Homo sapiens: one gene and its partner. The protein of the gene in region 2 binds, or shares a complex with, the protein of the main gene of each other region. Each region holds a gene or a part of one and is shown on either strand. Other genes may lie near its edges. A codon is read from its position in the direction of its gene.

Region 1 (7,886 bases), on a different chromosome or scaffold from region 2:
ACTCTATAGACTACTTGATTATTGCAGAGGAATATAATTTTTAATTTAAGCTTTCAAGAATAAATCTTAGACTGCAAAATCAGGGAATTTTCTGGATTTGGGTCTACTTCTCTTCTCTCATTTTTTTCTCAACCAGAGATGTTTGGGATTTCAATCACAAGTGTGAGGATATTGGACATTACTGCATAATGGGTATGGTGAGTACTTCCTTATGTTCACCACAGTCTAGTTTGCTACTAACAGCTTAGGAGAGAATGAAAGCCAATGAGGGTGGGAGAAGATAAACTGTTAGCTAATGCATACAGGTTCAGTTTTCTTCATCTCCATGTCTAGTCAATGCCTTTCAACTAATACCTGTTACTCTTTCATCAAACTTTCTGCCTGCCTTTCTAAGAGCAGTGCACATTACATTTTACTTAGCCAGTGTTCTCAAAAGGGAAGTTAGTAACTTTCTGTAAAAGAAAGACTTTACTCTTCATTGCAACTGATCTCTCTCTCTCCCACTGTAAAACTGATTGAGGTGCTTAAGGTTCTCAAGAAATTGCTACTCATAGCCCTGTGATTACTTTTATAAAGGCGGGGGGGAGGGGAAATCAGTAGAATGGAATGGTTGATTACTCAGGGAAAAGATTCTTTCTTTTTTGAATTTTCTTCTCAAATTATGGAGGGAAGGAAAGGGAGTGGGAAAATGTTCAAGAAATAAGTTTATGTGAAACTGGGAATGTTATTTCCTGGTATATGCAGATTAATGATCCCTTTGTCATTGCCTCCCCAGCAGAGCACAGGCTTCAGGAGGCAGGTGGAAAAGTATGAGAAAGGCTTGAAAATTTAAGTGGGATAAAGGAAGATGATCCAATAGGCAGAGAAAGAGAACAGTGGGGATAAGTACAGAGGAAAAGACTGATGAGTTCCAAGAGCTTATGGTGAAGCAGTCATCTTTGTAGAGGAGTTTGAGAGTGGCAGAGATGAGGAGAGAAAGTGGATTTTTAAATATGTTTTATTTTTCTTTGGGTATAAAGGCCTCACTTCTTTGAATACATGAAAAAAATAAGTACAGATATGAGTAACTTTTTTGTTTCAGTCAAAAAACAGAAACCACTGTATTTCAACAGGGGGAATTTCATACCAGGAAATTTGTTACATGGATTATGGAAAAGTAGAGAATCCCAACATGGGGTGCAGAGGCAACATAATATAAAGATGAACAACTACAGGAAGTGGTTACCACCCTAGGGGTTAGAGGGAAACTAGGAGGTGGTGGTGTAACTTGAGTTCAGAAGCCAGGGCCACCTGGCAGAATCTTGAGCTACAGTGGTGATGGCTAGGACTAGCTCATGCCACAGGGGGAGAGGCTGACTGGTGAAAGTTGGAGCCTCAGTGCAGATGCAGCCCCTTCATGGATGCCACTTAAAGCAGAAAGCTCAGGGAAGAAACACTATGGCTTATCTCCTGCTATCCATTCTCCAATTCAGCTAAACATACTAGAAGCCAGAGGGCCAAGGAGCCTGGCAATACAATTTTCTCTGAAACACAGTAGAGCAAGGAAAGTGGGGAATAGACCTGAGAGCAAGAGGCAAATAATTGGCACATGTTTTAATTGTCTAAGTGTGTTTCTTTGAATTCATCTCTGTGTGGAACAGAACCACGAGACTAACTTCTCTTTATGTGGTTTACACATGGTCTAAGAGCCATAGCATTCTAAAAAGTACCTTTCCTTGAATATTAAGAAGTGAAAAACACTACTACTTTGCTAATTATCGTAATTACAGAAGCTTCCCAAGTAGTTCATGGACAACAATCAAAAGAGTACTTATGTCTTTTTTTTCCTTCTTTTGTTCCCTTTCACTCCTCCCATTTCTTTTTTTTTTACCTCCATATTAGCTATAACTGCTGTACAACTACCCTTGTGCAATTAGTCAATATTGATCTCATAATGGGGTTACTATCCTACCTTCCTGTCTCTTTCATGTCTTGAAGAGTGGGTACCAACAAGGGAAATGATGCTACATTTAGCTTTTGGCATCTACCATATCTGACATATCTTTGTGCTGACCCTGTTTACTCACTTAGCATATAGGATGTCATGTTTGCCTGGAAACATGATTGCCATCTAAACATTTTGGTATATTTCTTGTATTTTGTCATGTTTTCCTATAGTTGTATGTGGAGTGATTTAATGTAGGGTTTTTAGTGTAGGCATAGTAAGGCTTTTTTCTAGTATCTTGGTCAAAAGTATAACCAAATTTCTTGGGTTTTAAATCCCAACTCTACTATTTGCTAGTTATGTGAACTTGGCCAAGTAACTGAACTGCTCTGGAACTCAGTTTCCTTATCTGTAAATATAATCATAATAATAGAATCTGCTTTACAGTGGTTGAGTTGTGAGGATCAAATGAATTGATGTGTGTGTGTTTGCATGTGTGTCTATATGTGTAATACACACATATATGCAGTCATATCACTTAACTATGGGGGATTTGTTCTGAGAAATGTATCCTTAGGTGATTTTGTTGTTGTGTGAAAATCATAGAGTGTATTTACATAAACCTGATGGTATAGTCTACTACACGCCTAGGCTACATGGTATAGCCTATGGCTGCTAGGCTACAAACCTTATCGTTTTTTATTGTACTGAATACTGTCAGAGATTCTAACACAATGGTATCTAACCATAGTTAACCATAGAAAATAGACAATAAAAATAAAGTATAAAAGATTAAAAATGGTACACCTGTATAAGGCACTTACCATGAGTAGAGCTTGGAGAACTAGAAGTTACTCTATGTGTCAGTGAGTGAGTGGTGAATGGATAGGAAGGCCTAGAACATTTTTGTACACTCCTATAGATTTTATGAACACTGTACACTTAGGCTATACTAAATATGCAAAACATTTTGTTTTTTCAATAATGAAATAAATTTAGCTTACTGTAACTTTTTATTTATAAACTTTTGCTTTTTTAATTTCTTGACTCTTTTGTAATAACCCTAAGCTTAAAACAAAAAAAATTTTACAGCTGTACAAAAATGTTTTAATATCCATATCTAGAAGCTTTATTCTGTTTTTAAATTTTTTATTTTTATATTTTACCTTTAAAACATTTTTGTTAAAAGCTAAGACACAAACATACACATTAGCCTAGGCCCACACAAAGTCAGGATCATTAATATCACTGTCTTCCACCTCCACATTTTGCCCCACTGGACAGTCTTCAAGGGCACTAACATGCATGAAGCTGTCATCTATGACAGCAATGCATTCTTCTGGAATACCTTCTGAAGGACCTGCCTGAGATTCTTTTACAGTTAACTTTTTTATAAGTAGGAGTATACTCTAAAATAATGATTAAAAGTATAGTCTAGTAAATAAATGAACCAGTAACATAGTCATCTATTTTTACTATCAAGTACTATGTAATGTACATAATTGTATGTGCTATACTTTTACAACTGGCAGCTCAGTAGGTTTGTTTACACCAGCATTGCCACAAACACATGAGTAATGTGTTATGCTACAATGTCACTAGATGGTAGGAATTTTTCAGCACACACACACAAGTATATATATTATATATTATATTATATATTATATATATATGTATATATATATATATATATATAGAGAGAGAGAGAGAGAGAGAGAGAGAGAGAGATGGAGTCTTGCTCTGTCGCCCAGGCTGGGGTGCAATGACACAATCTCGGCTCACTGCAACCTGACTCCCAGGTTCAAGTGATTCTCCTGCCTCAGCCTCCTGAGTAGCTGGGACTACAGGTGCCCACCACCATGCCCAGCTAATTTTTGTATTTTTAGTAGAGACGGGGTTTCACCATGTTGGCCAGATTGGTCCCAAACTCCTGACCTCAAGTGATCCACCCCACTCAGCCTCTCAAAGTGCTGGGATTACAGGCGTGAGCCACCGTGCCTGGCCAACACCATTATAATCTTATGGGACCACTGTCATACATGTGGTTCATCATTGGCCAAAGCATCTGTATTTATATATGTATGTTTCAAATTATATATATATATATATATATATATATATATATATATATGATAGCTATACATGAACATACACACACACATATATAGACATATATAGCACATAAAATTGGCACATATTAAGCATTTTGTAAATATCAACCATTACAATTGTTACTACTTTTCTCAGCAAGGCTATGAATGCTGTTCCAGCCTGTCAAAATCACACCTGTTTAATGTGTTTTACCCAGCACGAAGTCATGTCTAGTTGAGTGGCTTAAAAATTGTGATCAAATAGCTGGTTAGTTAAAAAGTTATTTCACTGTGTAAAATACATCCCTTAAAATGCACTGTTATTTATCTCTTAGTTGTAGAAATTGGTTTCATTTTCCACTATGTTTAATTGTGACTGGATCATTATAGACCCTTTTTTTGTAGTTGTTGAGGTTTAAAGATTTAAGTTTGTTATGGATGCAAGCTTTTCAGTTGACCAATGATTATTAGCCAATTTCTGATAAAAGAAAAGGAAACCGATTGCCCCAGGGCTGCTGTTTTCATTTCCTCATTGGAAGAAGAAGCATAGTATAGAAGAAAGGCAAACACAACACATTCAACCTCTGCCACCATGGGGAACTGGGCTGTGAATGAGGGGCTCTCCATTTTTGTCATTGTAAGTACCAACAAGAGATAAGTTATAAATTCTCTGACTTCTCGGGGTTATCTTGGAACTAAAATAGACCAAAGCTTTTTTGTTCATTTGAGGAATTGTGTTGAAACTGATTTACCATGTGAACCTATATCTATCTGTAAACAGACTGAGTCCATTCTTCCAAATTCCTTAATGGAAAGAACATATCTGGGGGCTCACTTCTAGCTTACTTCTGAATTCCTAGGAGGAATAAATTAGCCAGCATTTCGCAGAAGGAGTAGAAAATATTTCATGCTAATGATCTCTGATTCTGAGTTGTTTAGTAATGTTTACTCAGACGCACATGTCTATGTGTTTATACTACTTTAAAAATGACAAATTGAAATTTTATACCATTTTCTAAATAAAAAATATAAGATTGACTCATGTATGGGAAGTAGGCCTTTATTTCAGTAATTACACTAAATATAATAAAACTTCTCAAATTTATTTTCAAAAACAAGTACCTTCTTTTTTCAGAGATCTAAACTTGAGTTATTTATAAGATTTATAAAAATTCAAAAGAACAGAATTGAAATAAGTCATCTAGATTCATAAATATGTAGTATGTATATTTATATATAATTGTATATATATATAAATCAATATAGTCTGGAGAAACTATGTAAGTAAAGATATAGCTAATTTACAAGTGGACAGAATGATTTCTGTACTTTTTAAAACAAAGAAAATCAACTGTTCTCTTAAAATGGTGTTATCAGCAAAGCAATAATGGACAAATTGGGTAGATAGAAATACGATTTTTAAATAGCCTTTCTAAATAACCAATAGAAGCATTACACAGATGTTAAAAAGTACAATTATGAATGGAATATGAATGGAGCTTTTGTAAAAATTTATCATGAAAAATAATGAGTCTTTGAGTTTTAAATATAGAAAGCAATTAGTGGCACAAATAAAAACAACAAATATTTTGTTATAAAAAATGTTTACGCCAAACCAACATTCTACTGCAACAGAGAATTCTTCCGAGTATTCGAAGCTGTAAACTTAACTTCTTATCACCATTTTTAAGGGCAAATAATTTCTATAGAAAGTAAGTTCAAATTAAACTTTTAGCTCTCGCCACAATTTTTCCCAGGAAATGACCTCCTTCTAAATTATATACTCATGCACTTGAAAGTGAAAACACAGCTTGGAAAGTCAGAGTAAAGAAAGAATGACAAGATCAGGAAATTGGGAAGTTGCTTTAGCACTTTTTTCTTTGTAAAGAGAGAATATTATCAAGTGTCTAGAGCATATAATAGCTTCAAAGCATAGTTGAGAAAAGATCACTATGGAGCTGAAGGTAGAGAACTGGGTAGTGTGACCACTTGATCCAGTCAGTGCTTAGGATAAAATGAACTGTCATGATCTAGAAAGCTGTTTTTGTTGTAAATCCCAAGCCCCTCACTATGCTCAATATTCTCTCCTTGAAGCATTAAGTAAAACTAATCAAGGAAAATGGAAGGCTTGGCATTTTAGCTGATGAGAATTCACTAGCTGGATTACTGTGTGGTAGAGGGAGGTGATTAGCACCTGTGAGAACAGAACGCAGTGTCATACTGGTGGAGGGAAAGCAATAGTAATATGTTCCCTTCCTTTCTCATTTTAAGTGGAGTGGCCTGCTATCAGCTACCTATCCAAGGTTAAGCAAAAGAGAGGGGAAAAAAAGGGAGTGGGGTAATGTAAGACTGATAATTTGGTATACTGGCCAAATCATAAAACAATCATGGGGAACAACACAGGGTGGAGAGGTTTTAATTATAGACAAGTGTAGTGACACTGTTGAGGAAAGAGCTGGCTCTAAGCTGGTTATATCCAGCTTTGTCACTACCTTTGTCAAAGTTGGACTTGGGGAAGTCCTGACCCTTATCTGACTCCAGTCTTGTGTGGAATCTACTGTGGAAATGCGGAAACTTCATGCAATTATTTCTGTTTGTGCAGCTGGTTTGGCTGGGGTTGAACGTCTTCCTCTTTGTCTGGTATTACCGGGTTTATGATATTCCACCTAAGTTCTTTTACACAAGAAAACTTCTTGGGGTAAGTATAAATTCCATCCCATGCAATATTGGCTGGTTCACATTTCTCATCAGACATTCTTGTTCATCTTCCTGTTAGCATTTTAAATACATATTCTGACCAACCCAAACAGTACCATTAGCCTCACTCCCTCCATTGCAACTTCCTGGGCAACAGTCACTTAAAGCCTTCCAGTCTGGGACCAACAAAAGTGGGGCAGAGGGCCCCAGTGGCATCCTTCCCCAACCAAGAACCATGTGCCATTGTTTAGCTTAAAGGAGAAATCTAATACTCACTCTGAAATGGAAGGGCAGGTTGGAGCAATCCATCCAGGAGTGACACATGTGGGACAAGTGGGACTTTCCATATTTTCTAAGTCACCTAATTCCTAGTACTTTTTTGCATGAAGAGCTCTGCTCCTAATCACATGTTATGAAATGATCTTCAGAAAATAAATCTCTCTCTACATATAAAGACTCGAGGAACTTGCTCAAGGGCCACATCTGTTGACTAGGACAGTAGAGTGAAGGCCCTTCAGTTTCCTTGGGTCCTTTAGTATTCTGAGTTTCCTTGAACTGTCAGGCCTCTTGCCTCCAGAAGACATCTGTTACATCATGCTGAAACTATGAATTAATTGCTTAATATTAATTATTATAAGTATTATAAATCATAAATAAATAATTTTAGCATATAATTATGCTAGATCATTATAATTGTTGTTAGCTTATTCACATTGATGCTTTCTCCCGCCAAAATATGCAACTTCTTTAGACATTACAAATATAATAATTATAATGCCAAAGCATTATACCATACCAATTTAAGATACTGTTAAGATCAATTTAAGTGCTAAGAAAATATTTAAAATCTTTAAAAGTCTTGATACTTAACTCTAGTTAATGATATGCACCTTAAGTGTTAAAGAGAAAGTGAACTGTTGTCTGTAACTTACTTTGAAATGCATCAAAAATTAGATGAGTTGATGGATGGATACAGGAATGGATAGATAGAATGTGATAAAGCAAGCATAAAAGGTATAATCTGGGAGATGAATAAACAGGTATTTATTGTAAATTTCCTTCAACTTGTCTTTATGTTTGAACATTTTAATAATAAAATGTTGAATTAGGGCAAAAGGTCAATTTCAGATGAAAACAAAGGGTCCTAGCTAGCCCTAAAGGAAAACCGTTGGCTC
Region 2 (7,757 bases):
TATCTCCCCTCAACTTCAGTTTAAATAAAAGGATAATTTTAGGTTGTCATTTGTATAGCTTTTTTGTTAATGTTTTACAAACATAACTGGCCAGGTGTGGTGGCTCACGCCTGTAATCCCAGCACTTTGGGAGGCTGAGGTGGGTGGATCACCTGAGGTCAGGTGTTTGAGACCAGCCTGGTCAACATGGTGAAACCCCATCTCTACTAATAATAGAAAAATTTGCTGTGTGTGATAGTGGGTGCCTGTAATCACAGCTACTCAGGAGGCTGAGGCAGGAGAATCACTTGAACCTGGGAGGCAGAGGTTGCAGTGAGCCAGCACCATGCCATTGCACTCCAGCCTGGGCAACAAGAGCAAAACTCCATCTCTAAAATACAAAAAAAAAAAAATGAAATAAAAACATAAGTGTAATATGTTTGAAAGAACAAATTACGGCCGGGTGTATTGGCTCATGCGTGTAATCCCAGAACTTTGGGAGGCCAAGGTGGGAGGATTGCCTGAGCTCAGGAGTTCGCAACCGGCCTGGACAACATGGTGAAACCCCATCTCTAATAAAATACAAAAAATTAGCTGGGCATGGTGGCACGCACCTGTAGTCCCAGCTACTCAGGAGACTGAGGCAGGAGAATTGCTTGAACCTGGGAGGCAGAGGCTGCAGTGAGCCGAGATTGCATGACTGTAGCCTGGGCAACAGGGCGAGACTCCGTCTCAAAAAAAAAAAAAAAAAAGAACAAATTATAATCACTTAATTTTTTTTTTATCAAATAGCCAATGTCCAGTTTTCCCCATTGTCTCATATTTTTTTACAGTTTGTTTAAATCAGGATCTAAATAAGGTCTAGTATGTTTTAATAGTCTATATTACAATTGGTTCATATGTTTCTTAAGTCTCTTTTTCTATGAACTTACGGAAGACATTGAAAAGTCTCTCTTTAAAAATAAAAACTTGTTCTCCCTCTCCCTCTCCTCTCTTCTCTCTTCTCTCTTCCCACAGTCTCCCTCTGTTGCCGAGGCTGGACTGTACTGCCGTGATCTCGGCTTGCTGCAACCTCCCTGCCTCGGGCTCCCATGATTCTCCTGCCTCAGCCTGCCGAGTGCCTGGGATTGCAGGCATGCGCCACCACGCCTGACTGGTTTTTGTATTTTTGGTGGAGATGGGGTTTCGCTGTGTTGGCCGGGCTGGTCTCCAGCTCCTGACCTTGAGTGATCTGCCCGCCTCGGCCTCCCGAGGTGCTGGGATTGCAGACGGAGTCTCTCTCACTCAGTGCTGCCCAGGCTGGAGTGCAGTGGCGTGATCTCGGCTCGCTACAACCTCCACCTCCCAGCCGCCTGCCTTAGCCTCCCAAAGTGCTAAGATTACAGCCTCTGCCCAGCCGCCACCCTGTCTAGGAAGTGAGGAGTGTCTCTGCCCGGCCACCCATCGTCTGGGATGTGAGGAGCGCCTCTGCCTGGCTGCCCCGTCTGGGATGTGAGGAGCGCCTCTGCCCGGCCGCCACCCTGTCTGGGAAGTGAGGAGAGCCTCTGCCCGGCCGCCACCCTGTCTAGGAAGTGAGGAGAGCCTCTGCCCGGCTGCCACCCCGTCTTGGATGTGAGGAGCGCCTCTGCCCGGCCGCCCCGTCTGGGAGGTGAGGGGCGCCTCTGCCCGGCCACCCCATCTGGGAGCCTTTCTGCAGGTGTACCCAACAGCTCCGAGGAGACAGTGACCATCGAGAACGGGCCATGATGACGATGGCGGTTTTGTCGAAAAGGAAAGGGGGAAATGTGGGGAAAAGAAAGAGAGATCAGACTGTTACTGTGTCTGTGTAGAAAGAAGCAGACCAAGGAGACACCATTTTGTTCTGTACTAAGAAAAATTCTTCTGCCTTGGGATGCTGTTAATCTATGACCTTACCCCCAACCCCGTGCTCTCTGAAACCTGTGCTGTGTCAACTCAGGGTTAAATGGATTAAGGGCGGTGCAAGATGTGCTTTGTTAAACAGATGCTTGAAGGCAGCATGCTCGTTAAGAGTCATCACCACTCCCTAATCTCAAGTACCCAGGGACACAAACACTGTGGAAGTCCGCAGGGACCGCTGCGTAGGAAAACCAGAGACCTTTGTTCAAGTGTTTATCTGCTGACCTTCTCTCCACTATTGTCCTATGACCCTGCCACATCCCCCTCTCTGAGAAACACCCAGGAATGATTGATAAATACTAAAATAAATAAATAAATAAAATAAAAACTTGATTTTGACATAACTTGAGGCGTACTTAGAAGTGGCAGAGTTCAAGCTGGGCATGATGGCTCATGCCTGTAATCCCAGCACTTTGGGCAGCCAAGGCAGGTGGATCATCTGAAGTCAGGGGTTTGAGACCAGCCTGGCCAGCATGGCAAAAGCCTCTCTCTACTAAAAATAAAAAAATTAGGTGGACGTGGTGGTGTGTGCCTGTAGTCCCAGCTACTTGAGAGGCTGAGGCAGGAGAATTGCTTGAACCGGGGAGGCGGAGGTTGCAATGAGCTGAGATGGTGCCACTGCACCCCAGCCTGGGCAACAGAGTGGGACTTTGTCCAGAAAAAAAAAAAAAAAAAAGTTGCAGAGTTCCTGATCTTAAAGTTGTCATTTTTCAAATTTGTAGGTTCTATCCATATCCTTCTCTTTGTATATATCATTTTAAAAATCAGGTCATTTGCCTGTAGGATTTCCCATGTTGTCAAAAAGAGTCAAACTGAAAAATATTTTAAGAGATTCTGAACCAAATATGAGTGACCAAGGGCCAGCGACACAGCCCTTAGGAGATCCTAAGAACACGTACCCAAGGTGGTTAGGCTACATACATTTTTGGAAGACATAAGACAGTCAATACACGTAGATGTACATTGGTTTGGTTCAGAAAGGTGTGGCAACTTGAAGTGGGGGGGCTTCCAGGTCATAGGTAGATTCAAAGATTTTCTATCTGGCAATTGGTTGAAAAGGTTAAGTTACTGTCTAAAGACCTAGAATCAACAGAAGGGAGTTTTTAGGTTAAGATAAGGGTTTGTGGAGACCAAGATTTCCATTAAGCAGAGGAAGTCTCCAGGTAGCAGGCTTCAGAGAGAATAGATTGTAAGTGCTTCTTATCAGAGTTCTCCCTGAAGCAGGAAAAAGACCTGGAAAGGAACGGGGATTCGCTACAGAATGTAGATTTTCTTCACAAGGGACAGCTTTGCAGGGCTATTTCAAAATAAGTCGAAGAAATTTAATGTGGGGTAAAGTACTTCCATTTCTTCCAAGGCTTCCTATCTGTCATGTAGTCCTATACCAGAGTCAGGCTGGAATTTGGCGTCATTGCTACAGAGTCTACTTTGTCAACTTCAAGATCTGTTTTTGTTTTGTTTTGTTATTTTTTATTGAGATGGAGTCTCACTCTGTTGCCCAGGCTGGAGAGCAGTGGCACGATCTCGGCTCACTGCAAGCTCTGCCTCCCGGGTTCACGCCATTCTCCTGCCTCAGCCTCCCGAGTAGCTGGGACTATGAGCACCCGCCACCACGCCCAGCTAATTTTTTTGTGTTTTTAGTAGAGATGAGGTTTCACTGTGTTAGCCAGGATGGTCTCAATCTCCTGACCTCGTGATCTGCCCACCTTGGCCTCCCAAAGTGCTGGGATTACAGGCGTGAGCCACCGCACCTGGCCACCTCAAGATCTGTTTTAATGTGAATGCTGGTCAGCTGTGTGCCTGAATTCCAAAAGGGAGGAGGGAGTGAGGTATGTCTGTCTCCCCCTTCCCATCACTGCCTGAGCTAGTTTTTCAGGATAACTTGGGAATGCTCTTGGCCAAGCGGAAGGGTCCATTCAGATGGTTGAGGTTTCGAATTGCTGACTGTATCCTTGTAGAATCCTTTAGTACAGTCTTGTCTTCCACATTTCCAGTAATTCACTCTAGAAGCTTGTTCACATTCAGGTTAAATTTTTTCTGGCAAGACTACTTCATAGTGTTGTGTACTTCTGATATCTAACTGACCTTTTTGCGATGTTAATTAGCAGTCATTGATGACATTGCCTAGGTCCGTTAATTCATAGGGTGATGTTTTAATCCTACTGTTTCTTCTTCATTTATTAGCGGGAAAACTTCTATAATGAGAAATTCTTCTCATGCAGTATTTGGTTACTCTGCTGTAAATTTCATAAAGGCAGGACAAATGCTTGATGCTTTCCTTTTATTAACCAGGCCACAAACTGGGGTGAGCTTACCAGCATCCTCCAAAGGTGAACAGAGTTAAAAAATACATTATTATGAATTACAGACTGGAGCATCTGAGGATTTTAAATTCACTCGAATTCCTGTTCTTATTCATGCTCAAATCTTCTTTTTTGGCAATGAGAACCGCTTCAGTTTCGCTTCTATGTTAGCAAGACGTTCATAGTCCTTGGTAAGTTCTTTGCTGTCGGATACGTTTCCCCGCACGTTTCTTTTTTTCAAGAAAACTGGCTTCTTTAGCAGGAACCACCCGCCTCCTCCTGCGGCTCCGCCCGGATCCCGGAAATCCGCTCGGCTCCGCCCCATCCAGGAAATGCTTGCGGCCCCGCCCCAATCCCGTAAGCGCGCGCGGCCCCGCCCCCAATCCCGGAAGCGCGCGCGGCCCCGCCCCCGAAAGTCGGCTCGGCTCCGCTCCAATCCCGGAAGTGCGCGCGGCCCCGCCCCCGCCGGTTCGCGTCTCTCTGCTGCGGCGCGGGGACCGCTGTGCTCTCGGTAGGCGGCTGGGCTGGGTGGGCTCCGCACTTCCTTCCCGCTCCGTGCCGCGCGTCCCGGCACCCTTAGGCCCACTCCGGGAGGGGTCTGCGTCCTGGGCCCGCCTGCCGGCTGTTCCGTGTCCCGCCGTGCCCGTCGCGGGCGGCCTCGCGCCTGTTCCGCTGCAGGTTGGCCCCGGCGGCGGGAGCGCCCCCGATCCGGACAAAGAAACGAGCGCTCGGTGCGACTAGCGGCGCGGGCGGCTTTGCCAGCGCGCGTGTGCTTGTGTCCGCGAGTGTGCGTGTGTGTGTGCATTTGGATGTGGAATGCCGGGTGTTTCGGGAGCAATGAGGCAACTGAGGCCCGGGAGGGAGCCCAGTCATATACCAGCATCTAGGATTGGTTTGTGTGATTTGAACCCACTATTTTTTATTTTTTTGAGACACGGTCTCACTCTGTCACCCAGGCTGGAGTCCAGTGGCACGATTTCTGCTCACTGCAGCCTCCACCTCCCGGCCTCAGGTGATCCTCCCAGCTCAGCCTCCTGAATAACTAGGACCACAGGCGTACACCACCACACCGGGCTGTTTTATGTATTTTCTGTGGAGACGGGGTTTCGCCACGTTGCCCTGGCTGGTCTTGAACTCCGTGACTCAAACAATCCGCACGCCTCGTCCTCCCAAAGTGCTGAGATTACAGGCCTGAGCCACCGCGCCCAGCCTGAACCCCCTACTTAATGTCAGAAATTTGATTTGACTTCACAGGGAAAGCCCTGAGAAACTACCAGAACGGGGTCCCTGGGGCCAGTGTTGGGAGCGTACGGTGAAGTGGCAGGGCTGCTGCGCCCGTGCGGAACTCCGCTGTGGAAGATTAGCCCCTTTGGTGACTCGTCGGTTCTGGCCGCTTTGGGACCCTCTACTGTGCAGTCTGAACTTTCAGCAGGTGGAGGAGGGCAGAGAGAGAGCTGAGATCGTTGGTCCATGCCAGTGCGAGAGCCAGTACGGCCGGAAGCCATGATGGGACTTTCAGTTCCTTTCTTGGTGGAGGCCAGCACAGGGGAGAGGGGGTGCCCACAGATGCTAGAAGCTTAAAGGCTGCTGGGGGCTAGCGGCCTCAGGACATAAGGTTTCCAGACAGGACGGGGCAGGTGGTGATGCAGCTGTAGCTCGTGAGTCTGAGCGGGAAACAGCCCCCGCGCAGTCGGTGTCGCTGTGAACGGAAAAGGGCCTTCCTTACACAGGAAACGGGGTCTCTGGGGGATCCAGTGACGTGCCCAACCACAGAGACCAGGTGAGACTGGCTGATGGTGTCTGGGGCTGCAGGTGACTTAGTTGGGGGACCTGCTCTTGGCCTCCAGACTGGGCCTGATGGCGTGGGCGCCTGCCTGTGTGCAGGCCCAAGGGCTCAGCTGCCTCTGTCTGTTCCCAGACCCCTCCTCCTGTAGAGAGTGGTGCTGCCCTCTCGGGATGTACCTGCAGGTGGAGACCCGCACCAGCTCCCGCCTCCATCTGAAGAGGGCTCCAGGCATCCGGTCCTGGTCCCTGCTGGTTGGTAAGGCTCTCCACGTCCCTCCCCAGAACCCCAGAACCGGAAGCCTGACTTTCAAAAAGGATGAAAATGAAACAAAATATTTTCTCTTTTTTCTATTACCTTGAAATCTAATGGCTATTTTGTTTCTTTGTATCCATTCAAATTCTATCTGGTGTACTTGGTTTTACAGATAATGCATGTCTGTTTTGTCCCCTTTTAATCACTAACACCCAGCGTATTTAATATACTCTATGAGCTTTTCTGAGGTCACCATATTTTCCTTTGTACTTGTTTTGAACCACGTGATGGGTGATCGTGGGTTCCCATGTCTCCTCCTCCCTGGTCCTCAGACCTCTTCGTAGGACTCACAGTCCACTAACCACGTGATGGGTGATCGTGGGTTCCCATGTCTCCTCCTCCCTGGTCCTCAGACCTCTTCGTAGGACTCACAGTCCACTAACCACGTGATGGGTGATCGTGGGTTCCCATGTCTCCTCCTCCCTGGTCCTCAGACCTCTTCGTAGGACTCACAGTCCACTAACCACGTGATGGGTGATCGTGGGTTCCCATGTCTCCTCCTCCCTGGTCCTCAGACCTCTTCGTAGGACTCACAGTCCACTAACCACGTGATGGGTGATCGTGGGTTCCCATGTCTCCTCCTCCCTGGTCCTCAGACCTCTTCGTAGGACTCACAGTCCACTAACCACGTGATGGGTGATCGTGGGTTCCCATGTCTCCTCCTCCCTGGTCCTCAGACCTCTTCGTAGGACTCACAGTCCACTAACCACGTGATGGGTGATCGTGGGTTCCCATGTCTCCTCCTCCCTGGTCCTCAGACCTCTTCGTAGGACTCACAGTCCACTAACCACGTGATGGGTGATCGTGGGTTCCCATGTCTCCTCCTCCCTGGTCCTCAGACCTCTTCGTAGGACTCACAGTCCACTTAGCCTCCCGTCCTCCATCGCTACCCACCAGTAGGGTCCTGTACCCTTGGGGACAGCTGCACTTGTGTTGACGGGACACCGTGTGAGGAGTGGTGCTGGCTGTACCTCAGCAGCTGGGGCCCACCTTTTTTGTGACACGCCACAGCCTCCTGTGTGTTTTGCATGACACGCTGTGTTGTAATTTCTTTGTGCACAGTCTTCAGGCCTCACCACGTGCTACTGGAGTAACACCCGTGTCAGTTATGGAGCCTCACACAGCAGATGTGTCTAGTAAATACTGTGAATAGCGTATACTGTGTTTTGCTTTTGTTTTCTTTAGTAATGAGGTCTCGTTATGTTGCCCAGGCTGGTCTCAAACTCCTGAGCTCAAGCGCTCTTCCTTCCTCGGCCTCCCAGGTAGCTGGGATTACAAGTGTGTGATACTACGCCCAGCTATACTGCATTATTGAACCAGCTTCCTGGCTGTTTCCCCTACTCTGAACCTGGTGGTCTGTAACCCCTGACCACAGCTGTTCCTACAGTGGGAAGGGCCTGCTCATCAGGGGCTGTGGCTCCTGGTCCCGCTGCACCAGGGAGGTGGGGTCTTACCGGGAT

Evidence for each region. The genes of interacting proteins can lie anywhere in the genome.
Region 1: the proteins of CYBC1 (region 2) and CYBB are in contact, whole or in part, in a cryo-EM structure (PDB 8KEI), measured with the Homo sapiens proteins. Residues at the interface, in NP_001028218.1 of Homo sapiens: Arg22 (codon at 6,219), Leu26 (codon at 6,231), Ala37, Ser41, Gly42, Asp43, Trp47, Phe50, Tyr51, Phe57, Gln61, Asn62, Glu64, Lys77, His97, Asp98, Gln99, Val100, Val101, Val102, Leu103, Arg108, Ser111, Glu115, Val117, Arg118, Tyr119, Phe120, Arg129, Ala131; in NP_000388.2 of Homo sapiens: Trp28 (codon at 6,653), Asn74, Leu75, Leu76, Ser77, Phe78, Leu79, Arg80, Gly81, Ser82, Ser83, Ala84, Cys85, Cys86, Trp206, His210, Phe212, Pro266, Met268, Trp270, Lys271, Ile273, Tyr280, Tyr324, Phe326, Lys328, Leu335, Glu336, Trp337, His338.

The regions. Positions count from the first base shown.
Region 1 is NC_000023.11:37,775,472-37,783,357, forward strand, and holds the start of CYBB (NADPH oxidase 2), read left to right. Parts: upstream 1-4,587; 5' UTR 4,588-4,606; coding exon 4,607-4,651; intron 4,652-6,616; coding exon 6,617-6,712; intron 6,713-7,886. UniProt on the Homo sapiens protein: Catalytic subunit of the phagocyte NADPH oxidase complex that mediates the transfer of electrons from cytosolic NADPH to O2 to produce the superoxide anion (O2(-)).
Region 2 is NC_000017.11:82,447,653-82,455,409, reverse strand, and holds the start of CYBC1 (cytochrome b-245 chaperone 1), read left to right. Parts: upstream 1-4,657; 5' UTR 4,658-4,710; exon of another isoform or gene 4,711-4,930; intron 4,931-5,155; exon of another isoform or gene 5,156-5,979; intron 5,980-6,117; 5' UTR 6,118-6,155; coding exon 6,156-6,240; intron 6,241-7,757. UniProt on the Homo sapiens protein: Functions as a chaperone necessary for a stable expression of the CYBA and CYBB subunits of the cytochrome b-245 heterodimer. Controls the phagocyte respiratory burst and is essential for innate immunity.